Homo sapiens: one gene and its partners. The protein of the gene in region 3 interacts with the protein of the main gene of each other region in a pairwise test. Each region holds a gene or a part of one and is shown on either strand. Other genes may lie near its edges.

Region 1 (3,747 bases), on a different chromosome or scaffold from region 3:
AACCATCTATAGGAAGACCTGATCCAACCTCTCCCCCATTTTACAGACAAAGAAACTGAGGCTCAGGGAGGAGAGCCAGTGGTAGGGGCCAAGCTCACAGGGGAAGCAGAGCCAGGACTAGAAACCAAGTCTCGCTGCAGTCAATGCAAGCCCTCTGCCCTTATACCCTTGTCTTGTCTGCTGAATTATGCTCTCTCTGCCTGGGACAGGGGCCTTCCTCAGAGCGCAGGGTGACCAGGATGTGCTGCTTAATGGAGAACAGGGAGACCTCAGCCCCCATGCCTCCTTGACTCCGGCTCCTGTCCCTTGGCCTGGTTCCTCACCATCAATCTAGTGGCCTGGGACAGTTTAGGTGGAAGTCCAAGATGCTCAAGTCCTCTAAGGACTTGACTCTTGCCTGGCCAAGTTTATCTTGGTCCTGGGAGGTAGAGGTCAGCAGGTAAAGAGTCTCAAGTGCTTGATCACAGGGTGTGTGTGTGTGTGTGGCGTGTGAACAGGCATGCACACGCAACTGGTGGTTCACTGAAGAGGGGGCTCCCACTAGACTCCCCAAACAATCCACATTTCATCTGGGCAGGCCCTTCTGAACCCAAATATTTTCTCCCATTCTAAGTCCGTGCCCCTCCCCCATCAAGGCCTTAGGGCTGAGCCTGAGAGAGGGAGGGAGGGAAGAAGAGAGAGAAGCCACGTTTCCTTAGGGAGGGAGGGGAAGAGTGAGAAAGAGGAGAAAGACAAGCTCACAGTCGGACCTAGTCAAGAAGACATAGGGAGAGGGAGAAAGTCAGCCAGACTCCAGGAACAGAGGGACAGAGCAGAGATCTAGAGGCAGATGGAGAGAAATGGCTCCCTCCTCCTGAGCCATCACCCTATGTTGCCCTGACCGCCTCTTCCCAGCCCCCAGCCTCAGGTCCCTCCCTGGGGTGGGGGGTCTCTGGGCCTGATTCCCTGGGGCTGCCAGGGTAGCACCCTGAAATTTCTGGGCCTGGCTTCCCCGAGGGGTCGGGTCTCAGGCCCTCTGAACGTTCCCCGGTGCGCCCCCCAGCGGAGATCCAGCCTATGAGCCACCGAAGCCCCAAGGGAGGCGCAGGAAAGGGCGCTGCCACTTTGCGCCCAGTCTGGTCCTGGAACCTGGGGTGGGTTGGGGACGGCTAGAAGACGTGGGTGGAGGGCGGGATTGGTGTCTCTTGAGCTCAGATCCGAGGATCGGACGGACCCGATACCTCGATGGCCCCTTCCCCCTAGAAGGTGGAGGCCAGTGTATTCAAAGATTGAGCCCCCAGGAGGGGCGCTTAGCTCCAAACACATGTCGCTCCTGGAGACCCTGCGCTGAACCCTCTCCCCGGCTCCTGCCCAGTGATGTGTAGTCGGGTCCTTCTAGGGGCCCAGGCGCGCCGCGAGGACGGGTGCCGAGGGGTGGAACGGGAACGGAGACCCTTCATCTTACCGCATTGTTGAGGAAGTCCGACTCGTTCAGATCCCCCAAGTCCAGGAAGCTGGATCCGGGGAACAGCCTGTCGGCCGGGAAGGGTTCCAAGACGGCGTCCATCGCAGCCGGCTCCCGGGACCCCCTTCCACTGGGCTTCCCTCACTCCAGGGCGGCGGCGCGCCCAGTCCAGAGCTCCTGCCTGAGCGCTGGCAAACGGGCGGGGGGCAGGTCCGGGGCGAAGCCCCGGGGGAGGGGCGGACGGAGGCGGCGCGGCCCCGGGTGGGGGGCGCGGGGCGCGCGGGGGCCTTAGGGCAGCGGCTAGGAGCGGGATGGGCTCAGGGGCCCCGGGCGCACCGTGGGCATTCAGCCGACTCCACCTCCTCCTGCTCCTCCTGGGGCACAGCTGGCTTCCATGGGGAGCCCGGGGTTGGGGCTGAGGGCTTCAGGAGCCCCCCGGACAGGGTGGGAGCCGGGGCGGGGGAGCTAAGTGCTCCCCCGAGACTGGGTGGCTGCCGGCCTCTCCTCTGTCTCTGCGTCTCCCTCCGCACGTCTTCTGTCACTTTCCTCTCTGTGAAACCGGGAACCCCTGGCTGGCTAGCCCAGCTGGCCAAGGCGCCACGCCCCCACATCAATATTCACAATAATTTAATATTAATGAGAAGAGGGCGTGGCTCGAGGAATCCTCTCTCCTTTTTTAAAGAGACATCTGCAACTTCGTCTTAGTAATCTCTCTTCTCTGAATGCTCAAGGTGGGGGCTTAAAGCAACAATAGTCCTGGAACCGATAACAGTGTTCCTGGAACATTGGCATTTTAAGGCTTCACCAACCACTGTCCCGTAAATTGATGAGGGAGCTATTTCCATCCTTCCAGCCTTATACTAAAGCCTGCACGAAACCCAGTCAGGGAATTCCATTTCACAGTCCCCTCAACAGATCTCCCCTCAACGGGGGAGATTTTCAGCTTTTTAAAAATTTTATTTATTATTATTACTATTTTTTTGACACGGAGTTTCGCTCTTTTTGCCCGGGCTGGGGTGCAATGGTGTGTTCTCGGCTCACTGCAACCTCCGCCTCCCAGTTTCAAACGATTCTCCTGCCTCAGCCTCCTGAGCACCTGGAATTACAGGCGCGCCCCACCACGCCCAGCTAATTTTTGTATTTTTAGTAGGGACGGGGTTTCACCATGTTGGCCAGGCTCCTCTGGAACTCCTAACCTCAGGTGATCCGGCCTCCTTGGCCTCCCAAAGTGCTGGGATTACAGGTGTGAGCCACCATGCCCAGCCGATTTTCAGCTTGTAACTCTCATTTCTCATCTCACCTGTTTCTTCTTCCAGGAAGCCTTCCCTGAACCCCCAGGCTGGAGCAGTTACCAACGGTATACACCCACAGGGCATCATGTGCTCACCTCCACTGTTTCCAGTCTAATGTGGTATTGTCCTTATTTGCTCACATTGTTTGTATCTGTGACCCCACTGAGCTGTGAGGCTCCTCAGGGCAAGGACAGTCCCCAGCTTCCCTCTGTGTGAAAGGGCTGGGTGAACAGCCAGAGATAGGAGAGTCCCCCTCTTCTCCTCGATAGTCAAGTCCCTCCCTACCCCCCAATGGTTCTGAAGAGCAGGAAGTTGGAAAACAGTGGTTCTGGAATCTGAATGAGCCAAGGTGCTGGCTGGCTGCACACTCCACAGTCACCAGACACTCCCAGGGCCCCGGGATCCATTACCTAAGTGGCTTGCTCCTGCGTACAAACTTAATCTCTTGAAAGGGCTGATAGCAATCGCCAAGCACCTGAACAAATGGAGGTGGTTCAGAAAGGCACTCCCTCAGAGGGCTGGGCACACTGTTTCCTGACCAGAAGTTATTAATAAGATTAAGCATGTCCTTTCTGTCTGGGACGTTTAATTAGCTCAGGAACCAAAGGCCTTTAAGAGGTAGAGATGTCATTGCAGCTAAGCCATGGATGTCACCAAAATTGCTCTCAGCACCAGGTGGGAGAAGGGTTCATACCAAGGCTGAGACAGCAGTTGTTTGCTTCCCTGGCAGGCAGGCAGTCACGTGGCTTTTCCCCACCTTATGATCTAGTTGACATAGTTCTGGAGAGTGAAGTTCTGACCTTCCAGGCTGTCACATGACTGTTAGCTCCCAGGCCTCCTGTAGAATTTGCTCCTGAGAAAGTAGGATTATAACCCATGCTCTGGGGACCAGTTCACCAGCCATGCAACTCCGAGAAGTAAGGCTGGGCCAAAAAGAAATCAATTCACTTTCACAACAGTGGCGGGTAGAATTAGGGTGCTGGGACCATGGGTGTCTTCCCCAAATGCGTC
Region 2 (3,747 bases), on a different chromosome or scaffold from region 3:
TCAGGAAGCTGAGGGAGGAGAATCACTTGAATCCAGGAGGTAGAGGTTGCAGCGAGCCAAGATCATGCCACTGCACTCCAGCCTGGGCGACAGAGTGAGACTCCGTCTCAAAAAAAATAAAGGATTCAAGATAGTCCCTGCAGAATGTGGAGGACAATCTAGGGGCAAAGTTGCAGAACCTCCATCTGAGGAGTCATCTTGGCCAAACCCCTCCCTCTACGTGTACCCCCACGGCCTGCCCACTCACTTCTTTCTCAGAACTCTGGGACAAACTGTTTCCTAATCCAGGCCGCTCTTCAGCCTCGCCCTTCTTTTCCTTCAAATGCCGCCATCTCCTACCGAGTATGGCCTGGGCCAATCCCATCCATGTCCTACCGAGTATGGCCTGGGCCAATCCCACCCACGTCCGTCCCCATTCACGTCCTTTACAAACAGCCCACCACACCCTATATCTAGATGCCCGGTCCTGGCCTAGTGAGGTGACTCACACCTATAATCCCAGCACTTTGGGAAGCCAAGGCAGGAGGATTCTCTGAGCCCAAGAGTTCAGACCAGCCTGGGCAACAAAGCAAGACCCCGTCTCTACATAAATTAAAATAGTTGGGTGCGGTGGTGTATGCCTGTAGCTCCAGCTAAGCAGGAGGCTGAGGCAAGAGGATAGCTTGAGCCCAGGAGTTCAAGGCTGCAGTGGGCTACGATTGCGCCACTGCGGTCCAGCCTCGGTGACAGAGCAAGACACCGTCATTAAAAAAATAAAATTAAAAAAAAAACAAACATGGCCAGTCCGCTCCATTCTGGACCTCGCCTCCGTCACAAGCCCCGCCCTCTGCAGCCTAGATCACCTCCCCCTCCAATCAGCAGAGAGCTTTCTCCCGATTGGTTGTCCCCTTCTCCAATCCTGAACTTCCCCCTCTTCTGCGGGGATCCACACTCCCGCTCTCTGCACAGTGGTGGCCTCTGCAATCGGGATGGACCCATCTTGTACCCAACTCCACAGACCCTAAGCTCTCCCTGAAGCCCCTCTCCCCACGGCAGGCGCGATTCTACGAGGCTGCCTCGCGCAACCCTACCACCCCCTCCAATCCCTACGGCGCCCCGTTACCCGGGGTCCTCGTCCTCCCCGCAAGCCCATCCCCTCTGCGGGCACCTGCGCTCTTGCAGTCTGCGCTTCCGTGCGCTCACACTGAAGCCCTTCTCGGAGCCGAGCCCGGGCCCCGTTTCCTGCAGAAGCCCCCGCCCCATCAAGGTCCCACGCGAGCCCGGGACCCCCGTCCCATCCGCACCGCCCCCACCCCTAGCCACCGACCTGTCTCGTGCGCTTTTCGGAGGAGCCAGGCGTCCGCACGATCCAGCTCGGACACTGGGGGCGGCGAAGCCCCGGCGCGGGGACCGTGGCCGGGGGCGAAGGACCCCCGGGCGCCCCCGCTCCGGGGCCGCTGAGGCGGCAGTAGCGACCTCCGGAAGCGAAGACGGGCAAGGCGAGCGGCCCGAGCCCACCACCAGCCGCCTCCCATGATTCGCACTACGGCCGCCGCGCGCCGTACCGCCCCACCGGCCTCCGGTAGGTTGCAACCCATGTCACTCAGGATGAATGGCTTACCCATTGGCTATGCGCTCGCCACTCAGGTCCGGCGTGAACTGTCCATTGGTCGGAATGGCAGTGATTCCCTCCTCTGTCATCTAGGCCGGTAGTGCCCGTCCCTCCTTGATTTTGTACCGGACTACGAATCCCAGCGATCATTGCGCTCGGGGAAAGCCGATATTCAGAAGTCGCAGGCGAGATGTCTGCTGGGAATTGTAGTTTTAATTCTATCTTTTTTAACGGAGTACATGCCGAGCACCTATTGTAGTTGTTTCTTGGTTGTTTCTCTTTCTTTCTTTCTCTTTCTTTCTTTCTTTCTTTTTCTTTCTTTCTCTTTCTTTCTTTCCTTCTTTCTTTCTTTCTCTCTTTCTTTTTCCCTCCCTCCCTCCCTTCCCTCCCCTCCTTCCTTCCTTCCCTCCTTCCTTTTTTTTCCCCGCCCCGAGACCGAGTCTTGCTCTGTCGCCCAGGCTGGAGTGCAGTGGTGCGATCTCGGCTCACTGCAACCTCCACCTCCCGGGTTCAAGCGATTCTCCTGCGTCAGCCTCCTGAGTAGCTGGGATTATAGGCATGCGCCACCACGCCCAGCTAATTTTTGTATCTTTAGTAGAGACAGGGTTTCACCATGTTGGCCAGGCTGGTCTCGAACTCCTGACCTCAAGTGATCCAACCGCCTCGGCCTCCAAAAGTGCTGGGATTACAGGCGTGAGCCACCGTGCCCGGCCAGGTCTGTCTCTTTAAGACAGATTTGTTTTCTTTGCCCTAACCCATTCCGGGATTCAGCTTTGCCTTCTCTCATCAGCATAAACCTTTTCACTAGCCAGGAATGTGAAAAATGTGTCTGGAATATTTTCAATTTGCACTTAATCCCATTTAAAGCTTCACATTCATTGCAAGCCTGCAGGCTATGCAGTGCAGTCCATTTGAACTCCCTCCTCAAGTGTAACCCCCTTGCTAGCTCCCCTACTTTTCCTCTTCATAAAATCCAAGCCCGGGCCAGGCACGGTGGCTCACATCTGTAATCCCACCACTTTGGGAGTCTGAGGCGGGCAGATCACGAGATCAGGAGTTCGAGACCAGCCTGACCAACATGGTGAAACCCCATCTCTACTAAAAATACAAAAATTAGGCATGGTGGCAGGCACCTGTAATCCCAGCTACTTGTGAGGCTGAGGCAGGAGAATCGTTTCATGCGCGTCCATGTGAAGAGACCACCAAACAGGCTTTGTGTGAGCAAGATGGCTGTTTATTTCACCTGGCTGCAGGCAGGCTGAGTCCGAAAAGAGAGTCAGCAAAGGGTGGTGGATTATCATTAGTTCTTAGAGGTTTTGGGATAGGCGGTGAAGTTAAGAGCAATGTTTTGCGGGCAGGGGTGGATCTCACACAGTACATTCTCAAGGGTGGGGAGAATTACAAAGAACCTTCTTAAGGGTGGGGGAGATTACAAAGTACATTGATCAGTTAGGTGGGGCAGGAACAAATCACAATGGTGGAATGTCATCAGTTAAGGCTATTTTTACTTCTTTTGTGGATCTTCAGTTACTTCAGGCCATCTGGATGTATACGTGCAAGTCACAGGTGATGCGATGGCTTGGCTTGGGCTCAGAGGCCTGACATTTCTGCCTTCTTTTATTAATAAGAAAAATAAAACAAAATAGTGTTGAAGTCTTGGGGGGTGGTATGGAGAGAGAATGGGCGATGTTTCTCGGGGCTGCTTCAAGCAGGATTAGGGGCGGCGTGCGAACCTAAAGTGGGAGAGATTAAGCTGAAGGAAGATTTTGTGGTAAGGGGTGATATTGTGGGGTTGTTAGAAGAAACATTTGTTGTGTAGAAGTATTGGTGATGGCCTGGGTACAGTTTTGTATGAATTGAAAAACTAAATGGAATAAGAGAAGGAGAAAAACAGGTATAAAAGGTCTAAGAATTGGGAGGACCTAGGACATCTGATTAGAGAGTGCCTAAGGAGATTCAGCATAGTCCTGCCAGCAAAGATTATTTGTTTACTTCAGGAGTTAAGAGTGGCAGTTTGGGGATAGCATGAGGAGATATCAGCTGTGATGGCTTGGAGAAACAGTGTAAACCAGCAGTGTAAACAAGAGCAGGGCACGTATGAGTAGTTGAGAACGGAGAATAGGAGTATGACTAGACAGAAAATAGTAGGGATGACA
Region 3 (3,747 bases):
GCTGGGATTACAGGCGTGAGCCACCGTGCCTGGCCCCTAGCACCATTTTATAGTAATTCTTCCTTTTACACTCCAGTCCCATTAGCCCTGGGCTTCTGGGCTTGTATACTTGGTTTCATCTTTTTTTTTTTTTTTTTTGAGACAGAATCTTGCTCTGTCGCCCAGGCTGGAGTGCAGTGGTGCGATCTTGGCTCACTGCAACCTCCGCCTCCCGGGTTCAAGCGATTCTCCTGCCTCAGCCTCCCGAGTAACTGGGATTAGCGCCACCAGGCCCGGCTAATTTTTGTATTTTTGTAGAGACGGGGTTTCACCATGTTGGCCAGGCTGGTCTCAAACTCCTGACCTCGTGATCCACCCGCCTCGGCTTCCCAAAGTGCTGGGATTACAGGCGTGAGCCACCGTGCCCGGCCAGGTTTCATCATCCTTGAATTTCCTAATTCCTCACCATGTTTGTCGCTTTAGTCATTCCTATTAAGAATTCCCTTCTGGGTACAGGTGCTAGCTAAACTTTCCCTCAGCTTCTCCCCGAACCCTTTGGAAGGAGCAGGAAGGAGGTGAACATCCAACGATCTAAGCATTTGACTCTCCTGCCCTTGTGCAGGCTCTCACCTGACAGCAACCCAATACTCAGGTATAGGTGGGTCAAGGAAGTAGCAAAAGAGGCGAGCAGCATCCCCAGCGCAGCCAAGATGCCTCCAGTCATCACCACGGGCCTGGGCCCGAACTTCGTGCTCAGGGCACTGCCTACCGGGCCTGAGGAAGTGGAAGGGGCGCTGCGAGAAGATCTCAGGGGTCTCCCCCCCAGCATCTCCCGCCCCTCGCCCTTCCACTTCCCAGTCGCCGCATTCCCTCTCCCTTCCGAGGGTCGCAGTCCGCCAGATCCAGGCGCCGCACTCACTCCCAAACTGCTGCACCGCGATTCCTATGGAGGCGATCCAGGAGACGCGCGCTGCCTGCTCCTCAAACGCCGCCACAAACTCCACGAAGAAGACCCCAAAGGAGCGGAGCACCCCAAACACAAGCGCCGACTGGAAGAACGCTGAGAGCACCACCACCCATCCCCAGCCCCCGTCGGGGGGCTCTGTCCTGCGCGCCATCTAAGCGGTAACAGGGCTGCTGCCACCCAGAGCCTCTGCAGGAGCCGGGTTCTGGACGCCGCACCTCTGCACACCCACCCCCGCTGCCGGGTGGCTCGGGGCCGAGAGGGGTTGGAGAGGCAGGTAGAGAGGAAGGGCCCGACGAGGCGGCGAGAGGCCCCTGCACCTTTTCCCAAGGCGGGGCGATATAGGACTGAAGACCTGGCCCGCGCTGGCCGGGCCAGAGTCTCCCGGGGGCGTGGTTCCGCGAGCTCGGAGCTGAGCTAGTTCAAGCCGGGGCCGGATCGGTCCCGGTTCGGTGTTCGGCTGGGAGCCAGAGGGTGGAACTGAGTTTGGGCCCCACCCCTGGAGCGCGCCAGTTTCCGTGTAGATGATCTATTTTATCACTGGGGTGTCCGGGCCGGGCCACCCTGGAGCTCGCCAATGAGGACGCGGGGCTCCCGGGCAGGGGCGGAACGAGAAGGGCAGGGCGGGATTTAGGCATTGTTGGGGACCAGCAGTGAATGGGCGCATGCGTAAGGAGGGGCGTTAGGAGGCTGACTAGGTAGGGCCCCACGTGACGCGGGGACTGCCAGGAAGCTTCCGTCTCCTCTTCACCTAGCGGGCCAAGTCATCCCCGTTTCAGCACCCAGAGCCACACGGAAGGGTTAGTGGTGGGTAAACTGGGTCTGGAGAGGAGAGGACTCTCTTGCTTTAATGAGGGGTCCAGGAATTGCAAGGCCCTGTTGGGGGTAGGGGAGGGGTTAGGAGATGAGACTCAAACGAAGTGTTTGGCGCAGCGCCTGAAGCCACTAACACGCAGCCCTAGGCACGCAGACCTAGAAGCCTGGATCCCTGAGAAGTTCAACGGCTAAGGGAAGAGAGAAGGGGAATGAGTTGGACTCCTGGCGTTCATTTCTGTAGTGGGAACTCGTTCCTGTCACTTCTGTTCCCACTAACAGGAAACCTACAGGTCACAGAGACCAAAAATAACTGAGGAGAGGAAGGGCGGCTGTAAGCTCACACAGGGCCCCACCAACACCACCTACCTCTTCCTCACTGGGGCTGGAACCTTTTCCTCTGCCCTCTAGTAACAACCACTTCCTAACCACCTTTTTTGATCTGATGGTGGGGTAGACTAAAGAGACAAACTATGACCCTGGCCACTGGAGCAGTCAGCCCCCTCTTACCCAAGTAGTCCTCAGGCCCCTAGCAAACACTCCCCAGTCCTTCCCAGTCTCCATAACACCAATGGCTTGGATTTCCTGTTCCTTCATTATAAGCCATACTTCCCAGGACCCTGACCTTGAAACCGTGGACTCAATGTTCACTCCCAGATTACTGGGGAAAGCAGCAAACAAGAAGTGGAGGCAGGGAGGGAGGTGTGTAGTCTTAAAAGACATATTGAGCCTTAAATAATTTTATATGTGGGAAATAAAAGTAATCATCAATAATACACATATATACTTTCTAAGAGTCAAAATGTCGGCTGGTGGGGAATATGCCAAAGATACAGAAATTGCTGTGGCTGTATTACATAGTGATTAAGAACTCGGGTCTTTAGAATCAGATCACAGTTCCAGTCTTTTATTTATTTATTTATTTATTTATTTATTTATTTATTTATTTATTTTGAGATGGAGTCTTGCTCTGTGGCCCAGGCTGGAGTGCAGTGGCATGATCTTGGCTCACTGCAACCTCCACCTCCCGGGTTCAAGTGATTCTCCTGCCTCAGTCTCCTGAGTTTCTGGGATTACAGGCTCCCACCACAACGCCCAGTTAATTTTGGTATTTTTAGTAGAGACGAGGTCTCACCATGTTGGCCACGCTGGTCTCGAACTCCTGACCTCAAGTGATCCACCAGCCTTGGCCTCCCAAAGTTCTGGGATTACAGGCGTGAGCCACCGTGCCTGGCCCAGTTCCAATCTTGACTTTATTACTTAACTCGATCAAGATGCTGAATCTCTCAGTTGGTTTCCCCATCTGTAAACTGGGGATAATAGTACCTACTATTAAGCGTTGCCCAAGGGGTTCAGTTAGAAAATCCATGCACTAAAAATGCTTAGTTTATGTGCTGACATGCAGCAGGAGCCAAGTAATATTAGCTTAGCTGGTCTTATTGGTGTTATTTTCAACAGGGGATAAGCTGCTGTAGTGGGAAGTGAAGGAAGGTTTTAGTTTAGTGTTTTTTTTTTTGTTTTTTGTTTTTTGTTTTGAGATGGAGTTTTGCTCTTGTCTCCCAGGCTGGAGTGCAATGGCATGATCTCGGCTCACTGCGACCTCCACCTCCTGGGTTCAAGTGATTCTCCTGCCTCAGTCTCCCGAATAGGTGGGACTACAGGTGTTTGCCACTATGCCTGGCTAAATTTTTTGTATTTTTAGTAGAGACAGGGTTTCACCATTTTGGTCAGGCTGGTCTCGAACTCCTGACCTCAGGTGATCTGCCTGCCTGGGCCTCCCAAAGTGCTGGGATTATAGGCGTGAGCCACCATGCCCTGCCTAGTTTTTGTTTTTTGATTAAAAAAAAAAAAAATCTAATCCAGGTCATGGGTTTAAAAAGATTGAGAAACGACCACTGCGATGGTTTGAATGTTACCTCCAAAAACTCATATTGAAACTTAATCCCCAACTTGGCGGTACTGAGAGGTGGAAACTTTAAAAGGTGATTGGA

The links.
Region 1: the proteins of SLC16A13 (region 3) and CREB3L1 interact in binary tests that used the Homo sapiens proteins (3 or more experiments, as listed by UniProt).
Region 2: the proteins of SLC16A13 (region 3) and TMEM160 interact in binary tests that used the Homo sapiens proteins (3 or more experiments, as listed by UniProt).

Annotation. Positions count from the first base shown.
Region 1 is NC_000011.10:46,275,911-46,279,657, reverse strand, and holds the start of CREB3L1 (cyclic AMP-responsive element-binding protein 3-like protein 1), read right to left. Parts: upstream 1,997-3,747; 5' UTR 1,547-1,996; coding exon 1,445-1,546; intron 1-1,444.
Region 2 is NC_000019.10:47,047,101-47,050,847, forward strand, and holds the start of TMEM160 (transmembrane protein 160 precursor), read right to left. Parts: upstream 1,525-3,747; 5' UTR 1,515-1,524; coding exon 1,307-1,514; intron 1-1,306.
Region 3 is NC_000017.11:7,033,733-7,037,479, reverse strand, and holds the start of SLC16A13 (monocarboxylate transporter 13), read right to left. Parts: upstream 1,466-3,747; 5' UTR 1,098-1,465; coding exon 899-1,097; intron 754-898; coding exon 610-753; intron 1-609.